4 linked regions of the Homo sapiens genome follow. The protein of the gene in region 3 interacts with the protein of the main gene of each other region in a pairwise test. Each region holds a gene or a part of one and is shown on either strand. Other genes may lie near its edges. The genes, in order: ZBTB44, KRT35, SMYD1 and HMG20A.

Evidence for each region.
Region 1: the proteins of SMYD1 (region 3) and ZBTB44 interact in binary tests that used the Homo sapiens proteins (3 or more experiments, as listed by UniProt).
Region 2: the proteins of SMYD1 (region 3) and KRT35 interact in binary tests that used the Homo sapiens proteins (3 or more experiments, as listed by UniProt).
Region 4: the proteins of SMYD1 (region 3) and HMG20A interact in binary tests that used the Homo sapiens proteins (3 or more experiments, as listed by UniProt).

The regions. Positions count from the first base shown.
Region 1 is NC_000011.10:130,255,905-130,262,938, forward strand, and holds part of ZBTB44 (zinc finger and BTB domain-containing protein 44), read right to left. Parts: intron 6,026-7,034; 5' UTR 5,970-6,025; coding exon 4,952-5,969; intron 1-4,951. UniProt on the Homo sapiens protein: May be involved in transcriptional regulation.
Region 2 is NC_000017.11:41,478,123-41,485,472, reverse strand, and holds the start of KRT35 (keratin, type I cuticular Ha5), read left to right. Parts: upstream 1-4,321; 5' UTR 4,322-4,375; coding exon 4,376-4,846; intron 4,847-5,691; coding exon 5,692-5,774; intron 5,775-5,969; coding exon 5,970-6,126; intron 6,127-6,477; coding exon 6,478-6,639; intron 6,640-6,986; coding exon 6,987-7,112; intron 7,113-7,350.
Region 3 is NC_000002.12:88,063,262-88,070,824, reverse strand, and holds the start of SMYD1 (histone-lysine N-methyltransferase SMYD1), read right to left. Parts: upstream 3,001-7,563; 5' UTR 2,961-3,000; coding exon 2,824-2,960; intron 1-2,823. UniProt on the Homo sapiens protein: Methylates histone H3 at 'Lys-4' (H3K4me), seems able to perform both mono-, di-, and trimethylation. Acts as a transcriptional repressor. Essential for cardiomyocyte differentiation and cardiac morphogenesis.
Region 4 is NC_000015.10:77,423,883-77,430,916, reverse strand, and holds part of HMG20A (high mobility group protein 20A), read right to left. Parts: intron 1-7,034. UniProt on the Homo sapiens protein: Plays a role in neuronal differentiation as chromatin-associated protein. Acts as inhibitor of HMG20B. Overcomes the repressive effects of the neuronal silencer REST and induces the activation of neuronal-specific genes.

The sequences.
Region 1 (7,034 bases), on a different chromosome or scaffold from region 3:
AAAAAAAAAAAAAAAAACACCCCTTCATGCTATAAACTCTCCTGAAATAGCCTACCAACCAAAAAAAGCCCAGCACCAGACAGATTCACCAGACAGATTCACAGCTGAATTCTACCAAAGGTACGAAGAGAAGCTGGTACCATTCCTAACAACAGAAAAAGAGGGACTCCTCCCTAACTCATTTTATGAGGTCAGCAACATCCTGATTCCAAAACCTGGCAGAGGCACAACACAAAAAAAGAAAATACCAGGCCAATATACCTGATGAACATTGATGTGAAAGTCCTCAATAAAATACTGACAAACTGAATCCAGCAGAATATCAAAAAGCTTATCCACCAGGATCGAGTTGGCTTCATCCCTGGAACGCAAGGCTGGTTCAACACACGCAGATCAATAAACGTAATCCATCACGTAAAACAGAACCAATGACAAAAACCACGATTATCTCAATAGACGCAGAAAAGGCCTTCAATAAAATTCAACACCCTGGCTGGGCGTGGTGGCTCACGCCTGTAATCCCAGCATTTTGGGACGCCGAGGCAGGCGGATCACGAGGTCAAGAGATCGAGACCATCCTGGCCAACATGGTGAAATCCCATCTCTACTAAAAATACAAAAATTAGCTGGGTGTGGTGGCATGCGTCTGTAGTCCCAGCTACTCAGGAGGCTGAGGCAGAAGAATTGCTTGAATGAGCTGAGATCACACCACTGCACTCCAGCCTGGTGACAGAGTGAGACTCCGTCTCAAAAATAAATAAATAAATAAAAATTAAAAATAAAAATTCAACACCCCTTCATGCTAAAAACTCTGAATAAACTAGGTATTGATGGAACATATCTCAAAATATTAAGAGCTATTTATGACAAATCCATAGACAGTATCATACCGAATGAGTAAAAGCAGAAAGCATTCCCTTTGAAAACCGGCACAAGACAAGGATGCTCTCTCTCACCACCCCTATTCAACACAGTACTGGAAGTTCTGGCCAGAGCAATCAGGCAAGAGAAAGAAAGAGTATTCAAATAGGAAGAGAGGAAGTCAAGGGTATTCAAATAAGAAGAGAGAAGGTCAAATTGTCTCTGTTTGCAGATGACATAATTGTATATTTAGAAAACCCCACTGTCTCTGCCCCAAAACTCAAGCTGATAAACAACTTCAGCAAAGTCTCGGGATACAAAATCAATGTGCAAAAATCACAAGCGTTCCTATACACCAGTAATAGACAAGCAGAGAGCCAAATCATGAGTGAACTTCCATTCATAATTGCTACAAAGAAAATAAAATACCCAAAAACACAACTTGCATGTTCAGCACATGCATCCCAGATCTTAAAAAAAAAAAAAAAAAAAAAGAAAAAGTACATCTTAATCCTTGCTACCAATGTATGTGACCTTATTTGGAAATAGGGTCTTAGCAGATGTAATCAAGTTAAGATGAGGTCATGCTGGATTAGGGTGGGACCTGAATCCAATGACTGGTGTCCTTTTAGGGAGAGAGAGATTTGAAGCCAGTGGCAAAACAGAGAGACAGGGAAGGTCATGTGAAGACGAACGCATATACTAAAGCACAATATCATATACTGGAGCTACAAGCCAAAGAACACCAAGGATTGTGGGCAGCTGCCACAGGCTGGAAGAGACAAGGAAGGATTCTTCCCTACAATCTTCAAAGAGAGAAAGATCCTTCAAAGGGAACTAACACCTGTCGTTCAGATTTCTGGCCTCTGACTATGAGAGAATAAATTTTTTTTAAACCATTCAGTTTGCGGTACTTTGTTGCAGCAGCCCAGGGAAACTCACACAGAGGGTAAAAGCACAAGAAACTAACAAAGTTAATATGGTCTTCCCGGTTCTCCAATATTTTGGACAAATCTTTATTATTCACTAGTGGCTTTTCTTCTATCCCTTCCCAAACCTGAATATAGGTATTCCCCAAGGTATCCCCTTGGTTTTGGCTCTTCTGTTTTTCCTATTGAGATTGAATTTGCCACTACTAGTAGAAAAGTCCCAAGTTGGGAATCTCACTTATCTTTTCTACTGCTTTTGAAATGACACTGCTTGATCATCATCCAAGCACAATTTACACAGAAGTGACCTTGATAATTTACTCTCAAAACTGGATTCCCACCACCTTCCACTGATTTTCATACGGCACTAACTACATTTAATAGATGCTAAAATGCTATTGATTCATATGATTGCCATTATTCTCTATAGCACTAAGGAAGAAAAAAGCAACTGTAGAAGACTGCCAACTGTAAGACATATCTGGATTCAGAAATAACAAAATATGAAAAATTGTGACTTAGAATCAATGGAATATAATAAAGTGTTACCATTATTTCCTAGTCATCAGAGTACTTTAACCTCTCCTGTTCTTTCAATATACATATTCAGTATCATCAGGTACTAAGTCTTTCTTTACAAAGTCTTGTAATATCTATTTTCTTTCACATGGTTTTAAGTCTTCATTCACACCAAGATAAGTGCACTGCAATTGGTCTCTGAGACTGTCTCTGTAAAACCAAACTCACTGCATGTCAATAACAGTTTTCCTAAAATATCTGCATGTTTTTGTTTTTATCCCTTTAATGTAGACTCCTTACTACCTACCACTAAGATAAAATCCAAGCTTACTTGGCCTACTTGTGGCAGACACTGCTAGTTGCATACTCAATATCCATTTTGCTCTAATTTTGTTCAAGGCATTTAGGTACCCAACTAATATACATTATCTTCCCAGATTCCCTTGCAGCTAGGAAAGACTATGTGACACAGACTAGCAGAAGTTTTTTAGGGATTTCTGAGAACATAGGTGCTTTCTTGATACAAAGCATTGCCCCTTTCTAGAATACAAAGCTGAAGATGAAATGAGCATCTTATGGATGAAACCAACAAAGTAAAGATGGCAGTTTATAAATATACAAGTTGCCTAGGCCACTGATTATATTGCAGATTCACTGTACCAGCCCTGGACTTTTATTCCTGAACACTTTGTGATAAAAAATCACAAGCATTCCTGTGCACCAGTAACAGAGAGCCAAATCACGAGTGAACTCCCATTCACAATTACTACAAAGAGAATAAAATACCTAGGAATATAACTTACAAGGGATGTGAAAGACCTCTTCAAGAACTACAAACCACTGCTCAAGAAAATAAGAGAGGACACAAATAAATGGGAAGACATTCCATGCTCATGGATAGGAAGAATCAATATCGTGAAAATGGCCATATTGCCCAAAGTAATTTATAGATTCAGTGCTATCCCCATCAAGTTACCATTGACTTTCTTCACGGAATTGGAAAAAACTCCTTTAAATTTCATATGGAAATTTAATGAGATACCATCTCACACCAGTTAGAATGGTGATCATTAAAAAGTCTGGAAACAACAGATGCTGTTGAGGATGTGGAGAAATAGGAAATGCTTTTACACTGTTGGTGGGACTGTAAACTAGTTCAACCATTGTGGAAGACAGTGTGGCGATTCCTCATGAATCTAGAAACAGAAATACCATTCGACCCAGCCATCCCATTACTGGGTATACACCCAAAGGATTATAAATCTTTCTACTATAAAGACACATGCGCACATATGTTTACTGCGGCACTATTCACAATAGCAAAGACTTGGAACCAACCCAAATCCCTGTCAATAATAGATTGGATAAAGAAAATGTGGCACATGTACACCATGAAATACTATGCAGCCATAAAAAAGAATGAGTTCATGTCCTTTGCAGGGACATGGATGAAGCTGGAAACCATCATTCTCCGCAAACTATCACAAGAACAGAAAACCAAACACCACATGTTCTTACTAATAAGTGGGAGTTAAACAATGAGAACCCATGTACACAGGGAGGGGGACATCACACAGTGGGGCCTGTTGGGGGATGGGGGGCTAGGGGAGAGATAGCATTAGGATAAATACGTAACGCAGATGAAGGGTTGATGGGTGCAGCAAACCACCATGGCATGTGTATACCTATGTAACAAAACTGAACGTTCTGCACATGTACCCCAGAATTTGAATTAAAAAAAAGAAAAAAATACTGCCAGAGAAAACAACTATAAATCATTTTATTTTCAATCTAAAAAGATAAATAAATAAATAATAAAGAAAAAATAAATAAAACTCTGCTACAGTTAAGTTACTGCAGAAGGGATTCCATCACCTGCACTTAAATGCAACCCCTACTGAAACTAGGATTCGAGGCTCTTTACAGCCTGCGCTCAACCACTCCTTTTGTCTGATCTCCCACTATTCCCTACAGTTTCAGGCATCTGTACTTACTTACATCATTTTGCACTGAATTCACTGTTTACCAAACACACAATGCTCTTCCATACCTCTGTGTTTGCATATATGTTCTGTGTTTTTATGTTTTCACAGAAATGACATTCCCACACTTGGGTAAACTCTTACTTATTGCATAAGACCCACTCAAACATATAGTGTAACTTGCTCTTTCCTTTGTTGCAACCATACTACTTTGTTCACACCTCCAGATGAGCACTTTTGATAGTTCACTGTAATCATTTACTTTCATATCTGCTTCCCCAATTAGATGATTAACCTAATTGTCATTGCAGGGACTATGTGTTTTTCTTTATGTATCATAAATGTTTGCTTGGCACATGGTAAGTTTTCAATACATATTTTAATGAAGAATAAAACACAAACTGGATTTAACTGCTTTTTTGTGTATGTGTATCTGCCTTTGTCCCAGCAGATACCATTCAATTATTTTTATCTTCCCCAATGTGCAACTTGTAAAAAATAAACGATAGTGCTAATAGCATCTCAAGCAAATCCAGTTACCATGTTTTACTCTTCTTTATATTTCCTATATGACCGAGCACAAAACTTTTTATCTAACAGGAACTTAAAAATGTTTGAATTGACTTTATAGCACCAAGAAAAACACAGAAGGCATTATACCTATAGAGGAAGACTGTGGACTAATCAGAAGGTCCTCTTGGACTTGTTCACTTCCTGGAACTGTCTGCTGATCACTCAGCGAACTCTGAGATGCACTGACAGGCTGGGACACTTCCTCATGGACCTCCTCATCACTTAATCTTTCTACTTTGACCCGGACATCTTCTTCGGTACCTAAAGGCAAGGTAGTTTTTGTGCTCTCACAAGTCACATAATCAGCCATTCTTCTACCGGTCTCAGATGGGCCAGGTAATTCTAAAGTCCGGGTATTTTCTGCTTGCTTAACTTTCTCAGGCTGAATCCTTCGATCAATTCCAAAAGGAAAAGTCCAAGGAAAAGCTAAGGAAGAGTCAACTGGTTGGTTTCTATTTTCTGAGTAGGAAGCTGAAGAATTCAATACCTGGGGTGAGCTTGTTTGTGTGCCACACTTTACAGGACTTTCAGGAGACATAACAATGTAGCTTTTGCGCTTTCTCCGGGATTCTCGGCAGACAGGAATGGTTCTTTCTACCACACTGCACTCTGAGGACACGGGAGAAATGCTCCCATCTCGAGAAGTAAAATTGCAGTTAGAATTATTTTCTTGTCCAGCATCTAGACCCTTTTCAGGTTGGCTGTTGGGTGTATTCCATAAAATGCTTGATTTCATGAACTCTGAGCAGGTGCTGGCAACACTGAACATTTGCATATAGCTGGCTGCTGCTAGAACATCAATAATATTTTCTGTGTTAATTGATAGAGTGGCTGTGTAAGCATATTCTAAAAGAGGTATAAAGCCAGTCACTGTAACATGATGCAGATCCAACACATTCTTGTTCTCATCCTCGGCTTGGCCTACAAGTTTGGTGCGAAAGAAATCACTGCAAGCTGCTAGTACCACCTTATGTGCCCGGAAGATTTTGTCCTGGACACGAATAGTGATATCACAAAAATGTCCATCATTTCGCAGCATATTTAGCTTTCCAAGCATTTCCTGGCTGTGGGAAGAGGAGCTATGAGTAAATGTTTTCACACCCATCTTTTACTTCCTCTTCTACAGATGCTCTTCAAGGATGCAAATAAATCAGAAATGTCCTAAAAAATACATAAAATAAAGCATTAATTGATATTTTAGTGGTTTAAAATGTGATTTAGATCATTTTCATGTGGCCACTGTACTAAATTAAAAAGCTGAAAGATGGTAGTGACAGAGAAACTTCAAGGTAGGGACTGTATAGAAATATATTCTCCTTATCTGCCTTCCAAACTGTCCAATCAGTGAAGTCTGTGAACCAATGTTTTTTTTTGTTTTGTTTTGTTTTTGAGACAGAGTCTTGCTCTGTTGCCCAGGCTGGAGTGCAGCGGGGTGGTCTTGGCTCACTGCAACCTCTGCCTCCCGGGTTCAAGCAATTCTCCTGCCTCAGCCTCCCGAGTAGCTGGGATTACAGGCACCCGCCCTCATGCCTGGCTAAGTTTTGTATTTTTGTAGAGATGGGGTTTCACCATGTTGGCCAGGCTGGTCTTGAACTCCTGACCTCAGGTGATAGGCCTGCCTAGGCCTCCCAAAGTGCTGGGATTACAGGTGTGAGCCACCATGCCCGGCCTGTGAACCAGCGTTTTAATGAGCTGCAGGGCTGCAACAGTTTGTAAATAATGACAATTATAGAGTGTCTTCTATGTGCCAGACAGTATTTGAAATGCTTCACATTTAATAGTTAGTTGATTGTCATCATATCTCTATCAGTAGGCGTATTATCATTCCTGTTTCTAAATGTGAGCATGCAGCAGGCAATGCCAGTGTAAACACTGAACAATCCATTACATAATCATCCCTGTTAATGTTTTATGCAGGTAAATGTATAGAGGAAAAGAAAGATGGGAAAAAGAAAAAAAGGAAGTGGAAAGAAAAAAAAAAAGATTTCAAGATGAATTTAAAAAGGTTGCCAGGTGTGGTGGCTCACGTCTGTAATCCCAGCACTTTGGGAGGCCAAGGCAGGCGGATTGCTTGAGCTCAGGAGTCCAAGACCAGCCTGGCCAACATGGCAAAACCCTGTCTCTACAAAAAAACACATAAAAATTAGGCGGGTGTGGTGGCATGGGCCTG
Region 2 (7,350 bases), on a different chromosome or scaffold from region 3:
TGAGTTAGGCAGGTCTGCAGGTGGGGCCTAACTCTGCCAGCTCTGGACACCCCTCTGATCAGAGAAGCATGGCCTGGGAGAGGTCTGAGGGCCTCACGGTTGGTTCCTTTGCCCCTGCTCCAGTCTTCACTTGAGAAAACAGGCCCAGAGAGGGCAGTGACTTGTTCCAGGCCACAGAGCAGTGAGTGGCAGAGACCTGGCCATCACCTGGCTATTCTGACCCTGGCTCTGGAGCTCTTCTCAGTACAATTTCTCTCTCTCTCTCTCTCTGTCTCGCTCTCTGTCTCTGTCTCTCTTCCCTCCTCCCCCTCTCTTGTGCTCACTCTCCTCTGGGCTCTCCTCTGGGTCATGGCCAAGACATCCATGACCTGGCTCTGCCTCATGTCATCAGCTACTTGCTGCTAAATGGGACTCTTCAATCACTTGCTGAGCAAGCCAGAGGTGCAGCAAACTTATCAGACAACAGGAGAAGACGTGCATAGGTAGCATCAGAGCATCCTGCACTGAGCCCGACTCTGCCACTCTGTGCTATATGCCCGGTTATGTCATGAGACCTCTCTGGTCTCAGCAGGTTCATCTGTGAAATGGGGCTGCCAGGAGGTTCTGATGAGACAGTGTGTGTGTAGCTTCCAAAAAGTGGTAGCTATCAGTGTTGCTCTTACTACAAATGCAGAGTCCCTGGCTTCAGAGTGTTGAACAGGAACCCCCACTGCATGGGCCAAGTGCTTTGCTTTGTATCTGGCAGGATGCTATGGTGAGGGCTGTGCTGCCAGCAGTGTCCTTGGAGCTGGAGAGTGAACCCAAAGGCCTCAGCCTCAGAGGATGCACCTAGCTTTGGGCAGGGGGGGCAGTTGGCATGGTTCTCTCACCTGCCCTGCCCCTTCCCTCTCACTGCTCCACTCATGCTCTAGGGCCTAAGTCTGCACCCCTGACCCTGGCCTGAGGCCAGTGTGTGACCAGGCGTGCACAGAGAGCATTGTACCTCTGTGCGGAAACAGGCAGGGGTCCAGGAATGGAACGAGTCTCCGGGAAACAGCTGAGCTGCCTTGTCACTGTGGATGAACCACACAGGGCATGACCTGATAAGTAATCACATCATCAGCACCTTGTGTTGTACAGTGCTTTCCCTTTTTATGATCACTCTCCAGTTTACAGGGCACACTCATAGCCTCATCTGATGCACGCAATCAGCCCTGTGTGGCTGTGAGCTCTTTATTTATTCATACTTGCCTAGCTTTTAATTACATTGTCCAGAGCATATGTATCAGTTAGGAAACACCTCCTATCTCAACCTCACACACACCCTTAACTGAGTTGCAATTGAAATCACTGACCAACAAGCAAACCAGAATTCAACAGTGTTGTGGGGGTAGGTGGCGACTGGTCTAAAGTCACACAGCAGGCGGCTGACTTAGGAGCCTTCTTAGGTCTTTGGGCTCCTATTTCATTGATATGGAGAGAGATATAGAAAACATTCAATAACATTTCCGCAGAGTGAATATGATGTTTTATTTCAAGGCGGTATGGTTTTTCTGATCCTTTTTGTACTTTCCAGATATGCTATCTGACTGCCTTTCTCATTCACATATACACATCAATTAATCAACAAAGAGATAACAACGGAACATGGCATACACAGCTAATCCAATCTTAAGGCTCAGGCCTATCTAGGAAGGAGCAGGGGTGGCGGAAGCGGCTGGAACAAAGAGTGGATAACAGGCACAATTCCCGAGGAGCTCACGTCCAGCTGTGGAGACACCTCGCCCCCTCGCTCCCAGCAACTGCACTGGGATAGCAGGAGCGGGTGTGGGCAGGGTTTCAAGTTTTGGGGAAGAGGAGAAATCACTGAGGGCTGGGGTGACCAGGAAAGGCTTTGGGGCAGATTTGGATTTGATGGGCAGAAAAAGGAGGAAGGAGGGCAAAGGGCATTTTAGGGCCGTATTTAGTGTATCCGTGGCATGATCTGGGGACAGCCTGGACCACATCTGAGCAGAGTGCAAGGATCCTGTAAGGAAAGTTACTAGGAATGTGCTAAACAATGTTAGTTCTTGCTGATAAGGGGTTCTAGATAATCATGTCATTTAAGAAAAGCATGCTAAAAAGGAACAGAAATAGATCAGACCAATTTACAAAATACCTTAAAACAGCTTGAAAAATATTACATATATGTTTTATAAAGTTATCTAAAAATCTTATCAAGAATTTTTTAGTCACAACTTTAGCACTAAATTGGTTTATGAGATCCATCTCCCTTGGGCAGAATGGCTTTTGGCCCAGAAAACACTTTGTTCTTGGCCAAAGGGGCTGGTTAGTCTGGACAGGTGCTGCTCACCTACACAGAGATGCCGGATCCCCTTCCATCTCTGAGTCTCAGTTTCCTCATTTACAAAAGTAGGAATAGTAGGCTGGGTGTGGTGGCTCATGCCTGTAATCCCAGCACTTTGGGAGGCTGAGGCAGGCAGATCACGAGGTCAGGAGATCGAGACCATCCTGGCTAACACGGTGAAACCCCGTCTCTACTAAAAATACAAAAAAAAAAAAAAAAAGAAAAATTAGCTGGGTGTGGTGGCGGGCACCTATAGTCCCAGCTACTCAGGAGGCTGAGGCAGGAGAATGGCGTGAACGCTGGAGGTGGGGCTTGCAGTGAGCTGAGATCGCACCACTGCACTCCAGCCTGGGCAACAGAGTGAGACTCCATCTCAAAAAAAAAAAAAAAAGAAGTAGGAATAGTTAAGATTGACTGTGTTTTCCTTTCCCCGCTCCCTACTCTCTTTTGTTTCCTCCCATTCTTTCTTTCCTTTCTTAACACAATTCACCGTGGGAAAAATCACTTAATTAATTAATTAATTCATAGACATCTAGAAGCCCTGCACTGTGCTTAACACTACAGAGATTTAAAAAAAAAGTACAAGGTCAATCCTTGCCCCCATGCTTACAGTCTCCCTGGGAAAATAGGGCTGAAACACAAGACAATCAGAAGACGTCAGTTAATTGGAGGCCAAGAAATCTACCAATAGTCACTGCCTTGGGCATTCAGAGCTGGGAGGGCACAGCAGGGCTGGAGCAGGGGCCAGACTTCGGGGGAAGGCCTGGCCAGGACTGGGCCCTTAGAGGCAGTGGGGTGGGCCTGTGGTTTGGAGCTGCAAGGCCTGGGCTTTAGCCTCCCTGGGAAGCCTGTGTGGACCTTGGGTAAGCCATTTTCTACTCTGACCATTGTCTCCTTCTGTAGGAGTCAGCACCTTTCTATCCACGACTGTGTTGGAGGGTGTGTGTGAGGCCTTAAAGAAGATAGCATGCCTTGAACAGTTGTACAGATGCTTTTTCAGCTGTGATCTGGGACAGGCTCCTGAAACAGTCCAAGCCTCCTCTATTTAATGGGCTATTGGTGATGCCAATCTCATGAGTTTGTGTGAGGACTGAATAAGAGAATGCATAGAGACAGATCAGCGTGGGGGCTGGTGGGTACTAAATGCTCAGTGAATGATGGTTGCTACCATCAGCCGGGTTATTGATAGGGCTGTGTGAAAAGAGCTCCAATTCAGGCAGCCAGAAGGAAGGGCTTCTCCATTTCTCAACCAGGGCTGGGGAAGACATGCCCTCCTAGATGTCATCATGGGCAGGTGTCCAATTAACTGATCTCTAGGCATTGTGGCTAGAACTTAGGCTCTACAACCTGCACAGACTTCCTGGCAAGGGAAAGAGTAGGGAAGTGTCCATCAGGGCTCTGCAGTATCTAGGGTGATAAGCTGTCCCATTTTACCGAGGACTGAGGTTTCCCTGGCATATGGAACTTTCGGAACTAAAGCCAGAAAATTCCTGGGGAAACCAAGAAAATTGGTCACCTTAGCCATATTTTCTGGGCCAATTCAAGAGCCTTCTGTGTCTCCCTGGCTGCAAGACCCCTGCCTTCCTGCACCAACCAAGTTTACCCTTCCATCTTCTGGGAGCACCCCAGAGACCTCCTCTACTCCCTCAGGCCAATAAAAGAAGTCAAAGTTGGAGAAAGTCAAGACAGTGGCTGAACTCCCATGCTTGCTTAATGCGGAGGCTGAGGTCTGGGCTCAAATGACAGGTCCCTTTGAAGAACTGACAGGGACTTGGTCTTCCCAGTGATGTGGGGTGGTGGAGATGAGTCTTGACATAGTAATGGGGCTCCTATTTTATGAGACTGGTAAATTTTCACAGGAAACTAAATAACAGGTTAATGAGGGGTTTTAATAGAAAGTGGTGTTAACTTTAATGAGGAGAAAACACTTTGTAAAGGCCAACCAATGCCCACTGGGGCAGAGATATAAATCTGGGGTAAGGAGCTGCTTCTCTGCTTTGGGGTGTCTGGCCTCAGAGACCTATCAATTGCATCTGAGTTGCAGGGGCCATGGCTTCCAAATGCCTCAAGGCCGGCTTCTCTTCTGGGTCTCTCAAGAGCCCAGGAGGGGCCAGTGGGGGCTCCACTCGTGTGTCCGCAATGTACTCCAGCAGCTCTTGCAAGCTTCCAAGTCTCTCCCCTGTGGCCAGAAGTTTCTCTGCCTGCTCAGTGGGTCTGGGCAGAAGCAGCTACAGGGCCACCAGCTGCCTCCCTGCTCTCTGCCTCCCTGCTGGAGGCTTCGCTACCAGCTACAGTGGGGGTGGGGGCTGGTTTGGGGAGGGCATCCTCACTGGCAATGAGAAGGAGACCATGCAATCCCTGAACGACCGCCTGGCCGGCTACCTGGAGAAGGTGCGTCAGCTGGAGCAGGAGAACGCCAGCCTGGAGAGCCGCATCCGTGAGTGGTGTGAGCAGCAGGTCCCCTACATGTGCCCTGACTACCAGTCCTACTTCCGGACCATCGAGGAGCTCCAGAAGAAGGTAAGAGGTTCAGAGTGGCTTTGGATTCCCAGGAACTTTGTGTCACCAGCATTCATTGGTAGTTCTGTTCCCATAGGGCATGTTGGAAGTCACCAAGCATGTTCATCTCTGTGGCCTCATTTGCTCCTCCCAATAACCTTAAGAGGGAGGTATCATTAGCCCATTATACAGTTGAGAACACTGAGATTCAGGCTGGGTAAGCGACCCAGATGGCAGTTACTGGAGCCAGAGCTTGAACATCAGGTCTATGAATGAACTCTGTGACCTTTGGTGGTATTGCCCAATCCTCTGAGTCTTCTGAGTTTTCATTTCCTCTTTTATTTAAAGTCAGGGGATTGGGTTTGATGTATTTAGTGCAGTGCAGTTCAGGCTTCCCATAAGTAACTCAGGGAAGAAAATGCCTGTCAGAGAAGTTTCTTTCTTGCCAAGGGCCCATATCCACTTCTCGCCTGGCCCAAAGTTATAGCTGGCTCCTGTGAGGGACCATTTATGACCAGAGAATCCCGGGGTATGTTGTTGGCAATGAAATGCCCTGGGCCCCCAGTAGGCCTGGGAGACAGGGAGATTGGAAGAAGCCTCATTTCATCATGCCAGGCCTTTCCTGTTGCATTTTCATGCAGCTATCTAACCTGAGTAACAGGTCACAGATACACTGCACTGGAAGAAACCCTGGACTTTCCATAGTTGATCCCTAGAGCCTGCCCATAACACTCCAATGCACATGGAGTAGCAGAGGTCTAGGATGGGTGACTTCCTCCTTCCAGAGTCAGCCCTTGTCAGCTTTAGGGAGCTCCAACAAGTGGAATGTCCTTTCTTGCAATGAAATAACTTCTTCATATCTCCAGACTCTATGCAGCAAGGCTGAGAATGCCAGGCTGGTGGTGGAGATTGACAATGCCAAATTGGCTGCAGATGACTTCAGGACCAAGTGAGTTGTCCTGCTTGTCATGTGGTTGGGGGCTGCTAGAACTGGACACAGGTGATGCCTGAGCTCAGGGTTTTGGCTGTACTCTGTCATTGGGGCATAAAAGCAGGACTCACAGCACCTGGACAGTCTGAGGGCAGGCCTGACTTAGATGCAAAAAGGAAATGCAGACTCAGGTGCCCTGTTCTATGCCTGCAGGTATGAGACGGAGGTGTCCCTGCGGCAGCTGGTGGAGTCAGACATCAACGGCCTGCGCAGGATCCTGGATGACCTGACCCTGTGCAAGTCTGACCTGGAGGCCCAGGTGGAGTCCCTGAAGGAGGAGCTGCTCTGCCTGAAGAAGAACCATGAGGAGGTGAGCATGGGGGAAAAGGTGAACACGGCACAGCAGGTGAGCATGGGGGAGGAGGTGAACATGGGGAGGAGGTGAGCATTGGGGATGAGGTGAGCATAGGGGGAGGTGAACATGAGGGAGCAGGTGTGCATAGGGAAGAGGAGGTGAGCATGGGGAGCAGGTGAGCATAGAGAGCAGGTGAGCATGCAGAGGAGGTGAGCATGGGGAGGAGGTGGGCATGGGGAGCAGATGAGCATGGGGAGGAGGTGAGCATTAGGAGGGGTGAGCATGGGGAGGAGGTGAACATGAGGAGGAGGTGAACCTTGGAGGCAGCCCTCTGGGAATTAGTACTCATCCTGGTCTGTGCTATAGGAAGTGAACTCACTGCGCTGCCAACTTGGTGACCGCCTCAATGTTGAGGTGGACGCTGCCCCACCTGTTGACCTGAACCGAGTTCTGGAGGAGATGAGGTGCCAGTATGAAACCCTGGTGGAGAATAACCGCCGGGATGCTGAAGACTGGTTGGACACCCAGGTAGGTACCTGGAAACAGTCAGTGCAACAGGGGTATGTGGTGGCTCACATGGAAGTGACCCTGGGGCTCTGAATCAAGAAATCTAACTTTGAGTCCCATCTCTGTTTTGACCTTGCTGACAAGGTCAAAACAGACCCACTTCAATTGACCTTGCTGACAAGGTCAAAACAGACCCACTTGGGCAGGTTGCTGTCCTCTGAGCAACAATGCCCTCCAGTATAAAATAAATGAGTGGGACTGGGGAATCGGGAATGTCTTTCTTGGCTCATGATTCTAACCGGCCTCTGTAGCTCTCTGAAGCCAAGTCCCTGGTGTGGCTGACCAGGTTCTGTGTGTGTATGTTTCAGAGTGAGGAGCTGAACCAGCAGGTGGTGTCCAGCTCAGAGCAGTTGCAGTCCTGCCAGGCAGAGATCATCGAGCTGAGACGCACGGTCAACGCCCTGGAGATTGAGCTGCAGGCTCAGCACAGCATGGTGAGCCCCAAGGCAGGGTGGAGCTGCCTCTGGACCAAGCCGAGGAGCACACAAGCTCCCCAGCTTCCATGCTTTGACCACACAGGCGGACTCCAGGGGTCCATGTTCTTGAGCACCAGGGGTTCTCTATGCAGAAAAGAGGGAATGAGGGACCAGCTCCAGTCACAAATCCCCCAGTGGTAAAGGACAAGAGACCTGTAGCAACTGACATGTCCAGGCAGTAGGTCCTATATTTGTG
Region 3 (7,563 bases):
ATTACAAGCACCTGCCATCATGCCTGGCTAATTTTCGTATTTTTGTAGAGACAGAGTTTCACCATGTTGGCCAGGCTAGTCCTGAACTCCTGACTTCAGGTGATCCGCCCGCCTGGTTCTCCCAAAGTGCTGGGAATACAGACATGAGCCACCACACCCGGCCAAAACTATTATTTAAAAGGCAGTAGAATATACAACACAAAACCTAGGATAATTACCTTTGGAGCAGGCATGCAACAGGATAGAGAAGATGTAACATATTGGAATATTCTAGTTAAGTTGGTTTGGTGTTGATTTATTGCTATGCTTTATATAATATATGTTAGAATATATACAATATAACATATAATATATATGTTAGAATATATAATACACACTGTTTGAAAGAATTAATTTTCATTTAATGCAGTGCTCAACTAAAAATAAAATCTTTCTCCACATTTGTGTGGAAGAGTAGGAAAGCCTGTCTTGCAGTAAGATGGATTAAAACAAGCCAGTTTTGTACAGTGACTTTTGTGGGTGACTCAGTCCCACCTCTGCAATCAAGTTTCTCATCTATGGTGGCTGAGCCTCACCAGGAGCCTAAAATGCATAAAACTTTCCTTTAATGCCTCTTTGGGCTGTCTCTGGTATAACCAAAGAAAGCACAGCTCCCTCATCTATGCAGTGACAAGTTTGGGTAAAGCATTTTTTGAAAAAAAAACTATCTCTTTTAGATTTTTTTTCAATCATTTTAAACGTCATTTATACCAATTATCCCACTTTTATTACCATTGTAAAAATAATATATGATTTTATGTAGCATTTATCTGCAATGTATATGAAGGTGTTTTTATAGTTGTTACTTCAAATGAATGACAAATTATTTATAATAACAAAAACATGGAAACAATCCAAATGGCCAGTCATCAGCAGGTAATAGAAGAAGACGTAGCCCTTAAGTACTATGTCTCTGAAGAGTGTATAATAGCACAGAAGATGTCAAAATTATTAAATGAAAAAGCATAATAGCTTGTATAATGAGTATATTACAGCCAAATGAAACCTATGTTTTAAAACAAACCGAAAATAGATACCCAACATGTTAAGAGTGGTTATCGCTGTGTGATGTCTTATCTTTCTAAATTTTCTAAAATGACAATGCCTTGCTTTTATAATGGAATGAAAGCCCATTCAACTTTAACCTTCTTGAAATGGAACTGATTGGCTAGATTGACTTTGGGGAATTGGAAGCAGCAAATGGAGATGTTCTTCACAAGGCCAGGCAGTAACTCACTGGCAGCGCCAGAATTAGTGTTGACAGTCCCTGTGTTTCTGGGTTGTTTTCACTCTGAATCCAGCTGGCTCCCTAACTGTACTCACCCCTCCCCTGACACATACACATACACACACACAGATTAATGAAATAAGACAAGCTCCCCCTGAAAAAGTCACCTCAGCCCCTTATTTTCCTCAAGTGGTGGTGAGCCATATGCCCCAGTTCACACCCTTTTCCCTGAAGGTCTTAGTGGGCAGGAAGACAAGAGAATGTGAATACTAATCAAGTTATCTGTGGGAAGCAGTGCCCTTTCCCAGGGTGGTCAGTGCAGCCAGCCAACCACAAAGCCTAGGTTATCAGACTCAAACCACATAGATGTCAAGCAGGTCACCCCAACCTTGATCTCAGAAAATATTGACAATTTAATGTAATCACCATGTAGGTTTGTTTAAAATGAAGATTTATTACTAATTTAAAAGCTTGGTAGTCTAGTGTGGCCAAGGTCGTGAGGAAGCGGGAATGTAAATTTAATAGAGCCTGTTTGGAGAGCCTATAAAACTGAAAACATCACATCCTACGGCCCAGCAATTCCTCTTCTAGTCCTGTGCCCTGGAGAACAATCGAACATATGTACAGGTAGACACGATCAAGGATTTTCATTTTATTTCATGAAAAATTAAAAACTACCAATTGTCTCTCAATAGGGGAATGGATAAATAAAATGTCATATATTTATAGGATGAAATATTTAAAATTAAGATTGATGATTCATATGGCATATGAATCTATATGGATAGCTCTATAAAGGAAATAGATCTTTGGAATTTAAAAGAAGTATCTATAGATTTAAAGTTCCTGCAAGGATAGACATCAAAAACGTGTTGTTTAGGGAAAAGAGTGAGTTCTAAAATGACATCTGAAGTATGACACCATTTCTGTAAAAAAAAAAAAAAAACCAGACAGACTACAGCCATCCATCTTGTTAAGTGCAGATATATGTATGTAATAGCACAGGAACATTCTAGAAGGAAATACATTGAAATAATAGCAGGGGTAATATCTGAGGAAAGACAGAGGGGACTGGGATTGGGTGATACTCAGATTTTTCAAGGGAAAGTGGATTCCTGGGTTATTCATAATTATAAATATACAAATAGTTCATAATTTTTAAAGTCTCAGCAATTACTTTATCTGGTAATGTATTTATAATAAAAAGAAAGCTAAAAATATAGAGCTTTCTGTCGGAAAATGTTTCCCACAGCACCACACCCACCTTTCCACTCCCAGCACACCCTCTCAGCCAAGTTGGCCAGTATTGGGAGAAAGTGCCCCCGAAGCCTTTGCTCACCTTCACCACCCTTCTAGGAGCCACAGCAAATCACACTGGCAATGATCCCTTGCAGAAAAATTTGTGCCAGAAAAATTAGCTCTCAGAAGTGCCATTTTGTTGAAAAAAGAGCACATGAATTTTATCCCTTCCCCTGATGATTTTTGAGAGCAAAGTATTTTAGAGTTTGGCCCCAGCCAAACTAACAGGAGAGAAGGCAACTCCCCACATTTCATACCTGTCAAAAACCACTGCGGAATAAGCCCGCTCAGCAAAGATGATATCTGCAGCCCAGAACTCCTTGGTGGCCTTCAGACCCCTTCCTTTGCCCTCAGCGGTGAAGACCTCCACGTTCTCCATTCTCCCTATTGTCATCTCAGAGACTGTCAGGCCAGCGCGGCAGTTATTTAACACTGAGCCAAGTCTCTTGTCATTGCTATTTCAGCACCTTCAGCATCCCAAAGAGCAAGACTATAAATGGACAAGCCACCTCCCCTTCCCTACTCGCTCTCAGCTACTGGGCCCTCACCTCCCCCTCTGCTACTTTTCCTGGAGGTGGGGATGGGACAGACAAGAGAACAAGTGAACTGGGAAGAGTTTCATTCATCACCCAGCAAAGCCGACAGAACAGAAAATGACCATGGGTTAATATGGCATAGGGCCTGAAAAGTTTTGAGAGGTTCCATTGCAAGCAGAAGCTATCTGTATGTGCTAAGTTCTGAACTGCAACAATCCTGTTCGGCTTTAGTTGGAGTAGGGAACATTTGGTCAGGAGGGTATTTTTAGCAGCCAGATGCCTCTGTCAATCAAAAGCAGACAGCTGGAATGGTCCCATAGAAACAAGGTGATATTTGCTGCTCTGGGACCCTTCAGCTGTCAGGCTTGCACTTTCTCAAGTGAGATGGGCCCTCGCCCCACCCTTTTCAGTCTCTCTCCCAAGGGTGGACTGTTTAGCAGCAGAAGCTAAACTGAGGGCTGGGCACGGTGGCTCACGCCTGTAATCCCCACCTTGGGAGGCCGAGGCACATGGATCATCTGAGGTCAGGAGTTCAAGACCAGCCTGACCAACATGGTGAAACCCCGTCTCTACCAAAAATACAAAAATTAGCTGGGCGTGGTGGCGGGCGCCTGTAATCCCAGCTACTGAGGAGGCTGAGGCAGGAGAATTGCTTGAACCTGGGAGGCAGAGGTTGCAGTGAGCCGAGATCGCGCCATTGCACTCCAGCCTGGGCGACAGAGTGGGACCCCGTCTCAACAAAAAATTAATAAATAAATAAATAAATAAATAAATAAATAATAAGAAGAAGCTAAACTGAGCCCTTGGCATATACGTAACAGTACTATTTAGGCTCCAAGGGGGCATTTTTCCTCTCCAGTATCACCTGGGGCTCTTACAGCACCCCCTACTCCACAGCATGGAATTCCCTGTTCTTAGCACTGCTGGTGATGCTGGTATGCTGGAGGCAGGCTGGATACAGACAAGGCAGGCTATAAAAATAGCAACCCCCATCTCTATCTTTCTATCAAATTTCCTTTAACATGTGTCTGCTGCCAGGAAAATACCAACGTGCTCTGTCCTTCTTCTTACTCAGGAGTGAGGACACTGGAAAGACGAATCTAAAATCCCCGTTGAACTAAATGCCACTGTTCTTGGCTATCAGGCAGCTTTTACTGAGGTTTAAAAGAAATACACTTGCAGATCTGGAGCTCTGGCTTGACTTCCATGTAAGATTTTTAGTTCCTGGGATGCATCTATTTCCTGGTGGGGGTTGGGGGTGGGGGTGACGGCGGGGGTGGGGGGCAGTGGGCAGGGGCATTTCCTGGATTTTTCTGAGTGTATGGTTTCTGAGTCAGATGAATCTGAGTTTGAATTCTAAGCCTGCTACTACCACTTGAGATGGAACCTGTGAAACAAGGGTGATAATTTCTACCTCACTGGATTGTGAGAGTTAGATAATATGTAAAAGGGGATAACACAGCACTTAGCACTTCATAAAGTACTCATTAAGTGATAGCTATTCTATTTTATTTACTCTGTCACATTATCCTCCCTAAACTATCACGATGTACCAGAAATTTTAACATGTCTTCAACCAATTGAATCTCCCAAAACACCTTCGACTCTTGGAAGCATGTTGAAAGTTCATTGTCTGATCATATATCCTGATTTTTAGGTAAGAATACATAGCCATGACAGCAAGAGAATATCTCTGCAGCTTCTGATGTACACTGAAGAGCAAAATAACTTAAGACATGTAAAGTTAGGTGCCTCAAAAAGTAAACACTGCATGCTCCCAAGGGGAAAAACAATTCTACAAAACAGAGAGTTAAAAAAAGAGAAAGAGGCCGGGCACAGTGGCTCACGCCTGTAATCCCAGCACTTTGGGAGGCGAGGCAGGTGGATCACAAGGTCAGGAGATCGAGACCATCCTGGCTAACACGGTGAAACTCCGTCTCTACTAAAAATACAAAAAATTAGCTGGGCGTGGTGGCCGGCGCCTGTGGTCCCAGCTACTGGGAGGCTGAGGCAGGAGAATGGCGTAAACCGGGGAGGCAGAGCTTGCAGTGAGCCAAGATCACGCCACTGCACTCCAGCCTGGGCAACAGAGCAAGACTCCGTCTCAAAAAAAAAAAAAAAAAAAAAAAGAGAAAGAAGGCCAGGCGCAGTGGCTCATGCCTGTAATCCCAGCACTTTGGGAGGCCGAGGCGGGTGAATCACTTGAGCCCAGGGGTTTGAGACTAGCCTGGGCAACATGGTGAAACCCTGTCTCTACCAAAAATACAAAAAATAAACCAGGCATGGTGGCGCATGCCTGTAGTCTCATCTACTCAGGAGGCTGAGGTGGGAGGACCACTTGAGCTCATGAGGCAGAGGTTGCAGGGAGCCATGATCATGCCACTGCATTCCAGCCTGGGTGACAGAGCAAGATCTTGTCTCAGAAAAAAAAGAGGGAAGGGGGGGGGGGGAGGGGAGGGGAGGGGGGGAGGGGAGGGGAGGGGGGAGGGGAGGGGAGGGGGGGAGGGGAGGGGAGGGGAGGGGAGGGGAGGAGTAGCAGAGCAAGCTCTTGTCTCAGGAAAAAAGAGGGAAGGGGAGGGGAAGGGAGGGGAAGGGAGGGAAGGGAAGGGAGGGGAGGGGAGGGAAGGGAAGGAAAGCGAAGTGAAGGGGAGGGGAGGGGTTTTCAGGAAAGGAGAGGAGAGGAGAGGAAATATTAAAAAGGTTTTTTCCCTGTAATCCCAGCACTTTGAGAGGCCAAGGCAGGCAGATCACGAGGCCAGGAGATTGAAACCATCCTGCCTAACATGGTGAAACCGCGTCTCTACTAAAAATACAAAAATTAGCTGGGCGTAGTGGCACACGCCTGTAGTCCCAGCTACTCAGGAGGCTGAGGCAGGAGAATCACTTGAACCCAGGAGGCGGAGGTTGCAGTGAGCCGAGATCATGCCACTGCACTCTAGCCTGGGTGACAGAGCGATACTCCATCTCAAAAAAAAAAAAAAAAAAAGGTTTTTTTCAATCCAGGTTGACTCCCAATGAATACCCTGTATCCACATTGCCTGGCAACTCAGGGTCTTGCAATAACTTGTCTGCCCTCAGGGGCCAGGGGCTCAGCCTGGCTCAGATGAGCTTGTTCCCTAGACTAGGCACTCTTGGAGCAGGTTCAGCCCAAGCCACGGACAAGGAAGAAATTTACCAGCCCCAAGACCATATGGAGAGAGGAAGCCCAGGACTTTAATTATACCTGTGGGCCTCAACCTTATCAGAACAATGGTTATTATATTATTAAAGGGTGGTAGACAGAATAACAGGCCCCAAAGATGTGCAGATTCTAATGCTTAGATCTGTGAATATGTTACCTTATATGGCAAAAGGGACTTTGTGAATGTGATCAAGTTAAGGATCTTGAGATGAGAAGATTATCCTAGATTATCCTGGTAGGACCAATGTAATCATGAGGATCCTTATAGGAGGAAGGCAGGAGGGCCAGGGTCAGAGGAGATGCGACAATGCAACCAAGAGGGTCAGAGTCAGAGAGATATTGAAGGGGCTGTGTTGCTGACTTTAAAGATGGAAGAAGCGGCCATGAGCCAAGAAACTGGAAAAGGCCAGGGAACAGATTCTTACCCTAGAACCTCCAGAGGGAACACAGCCCTGCGGACCTTGATTTCAGCCATGTAAAGTCCATTTCTGGCTTCTGACCACCAGAACTGTAAGATAATAAATTTATGTTCTTTAAAGTCTCTAAATTTGTCATATTTTGTCACAGCAGCAATAGTAAATATAGTAAATATTTACTATATTAGTCTCATTATAGTAAATATTATGTAACATGCTTTTTGTTACTTTAAAGTGAAATTCTTACATAATATAATTTATTCGTTCTTATACCTAAGAAAAATGACTAGTCTAATCTAACAAAGGTGAAAGAAAATCAAAGTTAATTTGTAGTAATATCTATTTATTGTAAATTAAATGTGTAAATGTGCTCACTATGCATATGCTTGGGTACAACTATATTAGAAGATGAGATAAAATGGCTAGATGTTTGTACCTCTAAGTGGAATCACTATGATAGTGAGAACAAAAATGCAGATTGATTTTGAGGACACAAATACCATATTGTTGCCTGTGACCATAATTTTCTGAAATGGTGAGCGACTCTTAGGGGAGTTCTAAACAAAATAAAGTTTGATCTTTCTTTGGTTAACAAGAAGTTGCATTGCTGGAAAATTCAGCATATATTAAAACTTTACAAAAACTACTTTACGATTACTTACAAAATGGATTTCCAGACTCAGACAATCATAAACTGGCTTTTTGCCTACCTGAAGAGCACATACAGATATTTGAGGCTGTGCGGGGTGGGCAGAGAGTCTTCATTGTACCAGGCTGTCCCCTGCTTCTCAGGGGATCTAGCATCTCTGGCCAGGATTAAGGACACAGAGTTGACAGTAGTTCCCAGACTGTTGGTGGGGAAGG
Region 4 (7,034 bases), on a different chromosome or scaffold from region 3:
ATATTACTGCTTCTAACTTTCTCTCCTCCAGTCATATGTATGTTAGACTTCTTCATCATTTCCTCATGTCTCTGTAATAGTTTCATATTGTTGCTGTCACAAGTTATCCAAAGCTATTGGCTTAAAGCAATACAAATTAACTTTCTTACAGTTCTAGACTCTGCCTAGCAAACACTGTGAGGGGAAAACAAGTTTTAAAAAAGTTTCTGGGTACTGTCCTTCTCTAGGGATCTTGACCCAAGAACTAGCTACCTGGAGATCTCTAAAATCCAAGTTTTGTCTGCTCCGCCCCATAAAACTAACAGCTTCTCTGCTTTTAGAAGAAACCCTCTGCTAAGTTTCACAGCATCTTGTCATGCTCTAAGAATTAGCAAATTCCTAGGAAAAAAGAGAAGCATGGAACATCAGCCCACTTCTCTGAAGCTCCTTTGGTTCTATGGTTGTGGTTTCTTAAGTCCTGGATGCCTCAGCAGGTCTCTGATGCCTTCACTTTTCTTTTTAATTCTCATCTTTCCTGTTCTTAGCAAAAGCATTAGTCTGCAGCAACCTCATCTCTCAGAGTCATAAGTGGAAACCATAGCTTGGGCTCTGAATAAAAACTCTACTGCTTATTAGTTAAGTGATTCGGCAAGTTATTTAACCTAGAGTATTTAAACATTTGAAGTTTCAATTTTCTTTCATGTAAAATGAACGTTAACACTATCTAATGAGGTTACTGTGAGGATGTGAAGATTAAATGAGACATATTTATAAAATGTCTGATAACAAAAACATTCTTATTGTAGGTTTTGTATGTGCCAAATACTTTATATAGATTTAATAATTTAATGTAGACATAGTTATCCTCCATTTCCTTTTCAAGACCACATATTAGTAAGTGATGAAGCTCAGATTTGATTCTAGAACACCAGTTTTCAATAACTACAAATTGTTGCTTCTATAATGTTGCTTGAGTATTGTTCCTGACACAAGTAAGTGGTCAGTAAATGTAAATTATTATTATATAGAAAATATAAATGCTTCAGAAATAGACACCAATCACATTAGTTTTTCTACTTTTTCTTCTGATGTTTCTCCTTTTCATTTTTGCAAAAACATTCTTACAACATCTTTCAATGTATTCTTAAAGACGCTATTGTGAAAAATGAATGTCTTACAGCCCACTGAGTAGATAGGCAATAATTTGCTTAGGCATTATTATATTGTTGAATATTTAGAAGGTTTCAAGTTTTAGACAGTATAGATATCAGTGCTATTAACATTTTGTGCCTTTAACTATTTTTCTTATTTAAAGTATTTTCTCAGAATGAAGTTCTATATGTGGAATTATTGGCTCAAAAGTATGAACATTTTATTATTTGTTGATATAACTGCTACTGTTATTAAGCCAAAAAGTTATGATAATTATGATGCCATCAAGCAACAAACATGAAGGTTTGTATCAAGAGAACAGGAATTAAAGCTATGAAGTATAGGAATGAAGGACATGTGGACATGGGGGAAAAAAAGGAGATATGAATTTTGAGGCTGGAAAAGAAAAAATGGGGTGCTGGAAATCATTTCTTTTGAAGCAGGCAAGCGCTAGTAATCCCAGCTACTTGGGAGGCTGAGGCAGGAGAATTGCATGAGCTCACTAGCGCCACTGCACTCCAGCCTGGGAGACAGAGCAAGACTCCGTCTCAAAAAAACAAAAAAAACAAAAAAACCCACCATATTAAATTATTATTATTTTGTTTAGTAGAGATGGGGTCTTGCTATGTTGCCTGTGTTAGTCTCAAACTCCTGGCCTCAAGCAATCCTCCTGTCTCAGCCTCCCAAAGTGTTGAGATTATAGATACAAACCACTGTGCCCGGCCAACATATTATTTAAAAATTATACATATAAATTGCAAAACAACCACACAGATTAAAGGCCTATGTTCTAGAGGCTCCCCCCTCCTTTTTTTTTTTTTTTGAGACAGAGTCTTGCTCTGTAGCCCAGGTTGGAGTGCAGTGGCTCGATAACAGCTCACAGCCTTGAACTCCTGGGCTTATGCGATCCTCTGGCCTCAGCCTCCTGAGTAGCTATGACCACATGTGTATATACCACCATGTCTGGCTATTTTTTATTTTTTTGTAGAGACAGCATCTCACTATGTTACCCAAGCCGGTCCCAAACTCCTGAGCTAAGGCGATCCTTCTGCCTTGGCTTCCCAAAGTGTTGGGATTACAGAAGCCACCACACCCAGCCTAGAGTCCACTTATTTGGTGTGTAATCTCGAGCCTTGAATTGCCTTATCTATAAATTGGGATTAAATTTTATAATATCCGACTAAAGCCAGAATTGGAACATCGTATCTCTTGTTTTATATTCCTGATATTAAATTTGTTTTGTGAGTATACCATACTTCAATAAAAATGAAGGAATCTCTCCTTTTTTGCTGATATGCTTTGAATGTCTTACACGCTATGCTTTGAATATCTTATCTTGTGATGAATATCCTGTTAAGAATCTTATGTCAGACTTTAAGTTACTATTTTAAAAGGTTACTTTACTTTGTGGGATTCTCTGAAGGCCAAGCCATTTGCCTGCTCTTTCTACAATCACATAAATCTTACTGGGTATACCCAAAGGCCGTTGCTTTTCTACAGCTGCCTTCCTCCTTCTTTGTTACCATCACAGATTTTGGGGTAGTAGGTACCTGATCATCAGGGAGAACACAGAAGGCCTTGAAAATGTGGGTTTAACCATACCAAGATCTTTCGCTCTGTTTATGTACTATAGCCTCCCCAGTAAAAACAAAACAAAACAACAAACAACATCTCTGCTAAATGCTTCATTATGAACACAGGTAAGTCAGTGCTTGATTGTCCCAAGTTCCAGTTCAGATTTTCCACTTTCCATTATCCTCCAGTAAATTTTAGTAGTGATACTGAGGGATCATGCAGTATGAGAATAAACACTGGCCTTAGAGGATCTGCATTCAAATCCTGTCTCTACCACTTACTGGTTAAGTGATTTTGGGCAAGTAATCTAATCTTTCTAAATCTTATTTTTCTCATATGGAAAAATGCCAAATTATTAGAATTAAGATAACATGTAGTGCCTAGCACAATACTACATAAATGTTAGTCAAGTGGGAATTGGAATTATGGCTCAGTGTGGTCTGAATCTGAATATTATTCAGAAAATAAGGACAGCAGCACTGAATAAAATTTTTTTTTGAGCTGAATAAAATTAGAGAATTTTGATTTCTAGGATCCTCAAAAATCCATATCCTTTAAAGAAGCCATATGGGGTAACATGTATAAGGGTCCTGAATTCCTTCATGTTCCAACAGATCCAGGTTCCAAGGTATGGAAACACTTATCAGATTATAAGCAAAGAGAACAATAATTTTATGTGTGTTCAACTAGCCAAATATTTTTGCTGGTAAAATCGTGGTGAAAACAACATCCTTATACATTGCTGTTATCATTAAAAATCAGTACAATCTTTTAGGGAAATGTAGGTATCATATCTAGAACTACCCATGCTTGTAGAACCATTAATCACACTCATAAGATTTTATCTTCAGAAAAAAAGTCAAATAAGGAAAATAGCTATAGTTTTATTTAATAGTGCCTGGCACATAAAAGGCACTCAAATATTTCTTCAAATGAATACCTTTATTTGTACTGACTTCTCCAAATCACTGCCCTTGGTTCCTTCTCATTAAGATTTATCTATTTTTATTACCTGAGGAGAGCTTTAGAATCAAATTCTAACATCTTTGTCTAGTCTCTATTCTCCCATCTTCCCCAGTAACTTTGTTTTGATTGCTACTAGACTCCTTACCTTAGAATACTCCCACTCTTTAAACTCAGCTGACCGTAACACAGAAACCAAAAAGACCATATACCACATCCTTGACCTAATCAAGAAGAAATCTGAAGCTTCCTTCAAGGTCATAAGATGTTTTTCTCCTTTGTTAATACCTCTGTAGTCTAAGTATTTACCAAAATCCCTGCTACATTAAGACAAAAACCCAGAAGCTATCCTCATATCCATCCTCACCTGATCCTTAACATACCTTTAGCCCTGTACCTAGCTGCTTATATTTCTCTCTAGGATCTGAGAAAGAATGATCATTTCCTTGCTTTCACACCTCTTGCTTCTTTCTTCTGGCTCCATTCAAAATTCTCTATTCTTCAAGTCTAAGTATCTCTCTCTTTTAGATATAATTCACATACCATAAAACTGACCCCTTTAGTGTATATTTCAGGATTTTTTTTGTACAGTTGACCCTTGAACAACATGGGTTGAACTGCATGAGTCTACTTATATGCTGATTTTCTTCTGCCTCCACCACTTGAGACAGTAAGACCAACCTTTCCTCTTCCTCCTTCTCAGCCTACTCAATGTGAAGATGACAAGGATGAATACCTTTATGATAATCCACTTCCACTTAACGAATAATAAATAGTAAACATATTTTTTCTTCCTTATCATTTTCTTAGTAACATTTTCTTTCTCTAGCTTATTGTAAGAATACAGTACATAGTACATGTAACATATAAAACATGTGTTAATCAACTATTTATGCTATTGGTAAGGCTTCCAGTCAGCAGTAAGCTATTTACGTAGTTAACTTTTTGGGGAGTCAGAAGTTATACATGGATTTTTGACAACACAGGGGTTAGCACCCCGAACCCCCTCATTGTTCAGGTGTCAACTGTATATTAGTATACAAGATATTTTAGTATATAAGGTTATGCAACCACCACCACTATCTAATTCTGGCACATTTTCATCACTTCCAAAGGAAACTCCATACTAGCAGTCACTCCCATTCCCATCCACTAATGTACTTTCTGTCTCTATTAGTTTTGCCTAATCTAGACATCTTAAATAAATGGAATCACATAATAGGTTGCCTTTTGTATGTGACTTCTTTCACTTTAATATTTTCAAGTTTTATCCATGTTACAGCAGGTATTGCTACTTTGTTTCTCTTTGTTGCTGAATAATATTCCATTGTATGGCTATATCGCATTTTGTTTAGTCATCCAATAATTAATGGACATTTGAGTTTGCCTTTTACAAATAAGGCTGCTACAAATATTTGTGTGCAAGTTTTTGTGTGAACATGTTTTAAGTTCTCTTGGATATATACCTAGGAGTGGAAATACAAGTTAAGTGTCCAAATATTTGATATAAAAATCTATTTGGTTTCTGAGTTCAGGTAGCAGAGGGTATCTCTCACAATGCAAACAATTCTATATTAAGCTCTCCATGCCATCCCTACTCAAACACCTACCATCTTCAAAGTCTGCAGATATTAGTAACAATTTACTTTTTTCCAATTAAATTGAGGAGCAGAGATCAGTTCTTACAGCTCCAGTTATATAGGAGGTGCTTAATATATGCTTATCTGACACCCTAAGAAGCTCCCAAATGAGAGAATGATGACTTACTATTCACTCTTTCATTTTATAGATATTTGAGTGTCTAATGTATGATAGCCATTGTGCTGATGCTGGGCATAATTGTGGACAAAAGTTATTGATCAGTTTTGTCATACTCCAAGAGCCAGCTCACGTCCACAAATATTTACTGAATACCTATGATGTGAATGGTCTTGTGCCAGGTATGACAGCACAGAGTGGAATAAGACCTAGTCTGCAGCCTTTTAGGGAAGGCATAAACTCTACCTACAACAACGCAATAAAAACAAACAAGAGGAGCACTGGACAGTAAGTGCTGTAAGAAAGGTATAATGCTCTGGAGAGTTAATGGACAGAACGTGTACAGTTTGGGAGAGTGTAGAAGAGGATGGATATCAGAAAATATTTCTTAAATGTGGTACTTGAGAAACGACCTCAAAGAAAGTGGCATTTTGATAGATGGGGATTCCTAGGAAAAAAGAGTGTTTCAGGCAGAAAATAGCATGAGCAAAAAAAAATATTAATGCTGGGTGCAGTACAGATTTTTTTCCCCCCAGAGGCGATCCCGTTTGGATGTGTAGATGAATAATGTGAGGTATGATCATAGTGTGAAAGGTCATTTTTGGTTTTCGTATTTAAATAAGTTTAGGAGAATGAGTTGAAAGTCTGCCTGTAACAATTCAAATTACCTTAGTGATTTGTGCCAAGATTAAGATTCCTTTTCTTGAAACTTTTCTATTTTGTATATCTTCTAATCATGGAAATTAGTGATTTCTCCTTCCCACAAGGAAAAAAAATTAAATCTTGACAACTGTGTGAGCATGCTGATAGGGGGACAAGGCTGAAGCTCAGTCAGTCTACCACTGCATCCCATACTGTGGGGAAAATGTAAAGCTTAAAACAGACATGTGGGCAAATCACAATAGCCAGAGTAGCAGAAGCAAGATTGGGGGTAAGATAATTGCATTAATGAAGCTTCTGGCACCAGGCATTGGACCAGGAGATTTACATACAACATTCTGATTCCACCAAACAACCCCATTTGGATTTAGGAAAACTGAGGCTTAGGGAGGTCAAATAAATTGCTCATGGTTACCAAGCTAGTAAGCTCAGCCAGTAAAATGCAGAGACCAGTGCTGAATTTGGGCCTATCTGATCCCATATTTTCCCCACTGTTCACTCTCATTTGTTTTCACAATACAAAAGAAGCTAGAATGGTAGGAAAATGATACATGTATCAATGAAAGGGACTGCATATTTAACACAGGGGCTTCTATGGTCTGGAGAAAAATTAGGCTGAAACATTCAAATCTGGGTTTAGAATGGCTTAGAGATTAAGACCAGGAGAGATCAAGTTTAGGGCTGCTTCTTTACCCAGTCTGAACAACGATCATAACATAGATCTTATTTAGGAATACCAAGGGAGCAAAATTCTAGTTTTAATTTGTAAATTAGAGAGTAAACTACAGTAGAATATGAATATTTGGCCGTATTTACTGTATTCAAAGTCCTGAGAACAGTGACTGGCATATAGTAGACACTCTAAACTTTTGCTTAAATAATGAAAAGTCACGTAAAGGGTATTCTCATTTGAATACCTGTGAAGGCTATGAAATAGAGACAGCAAA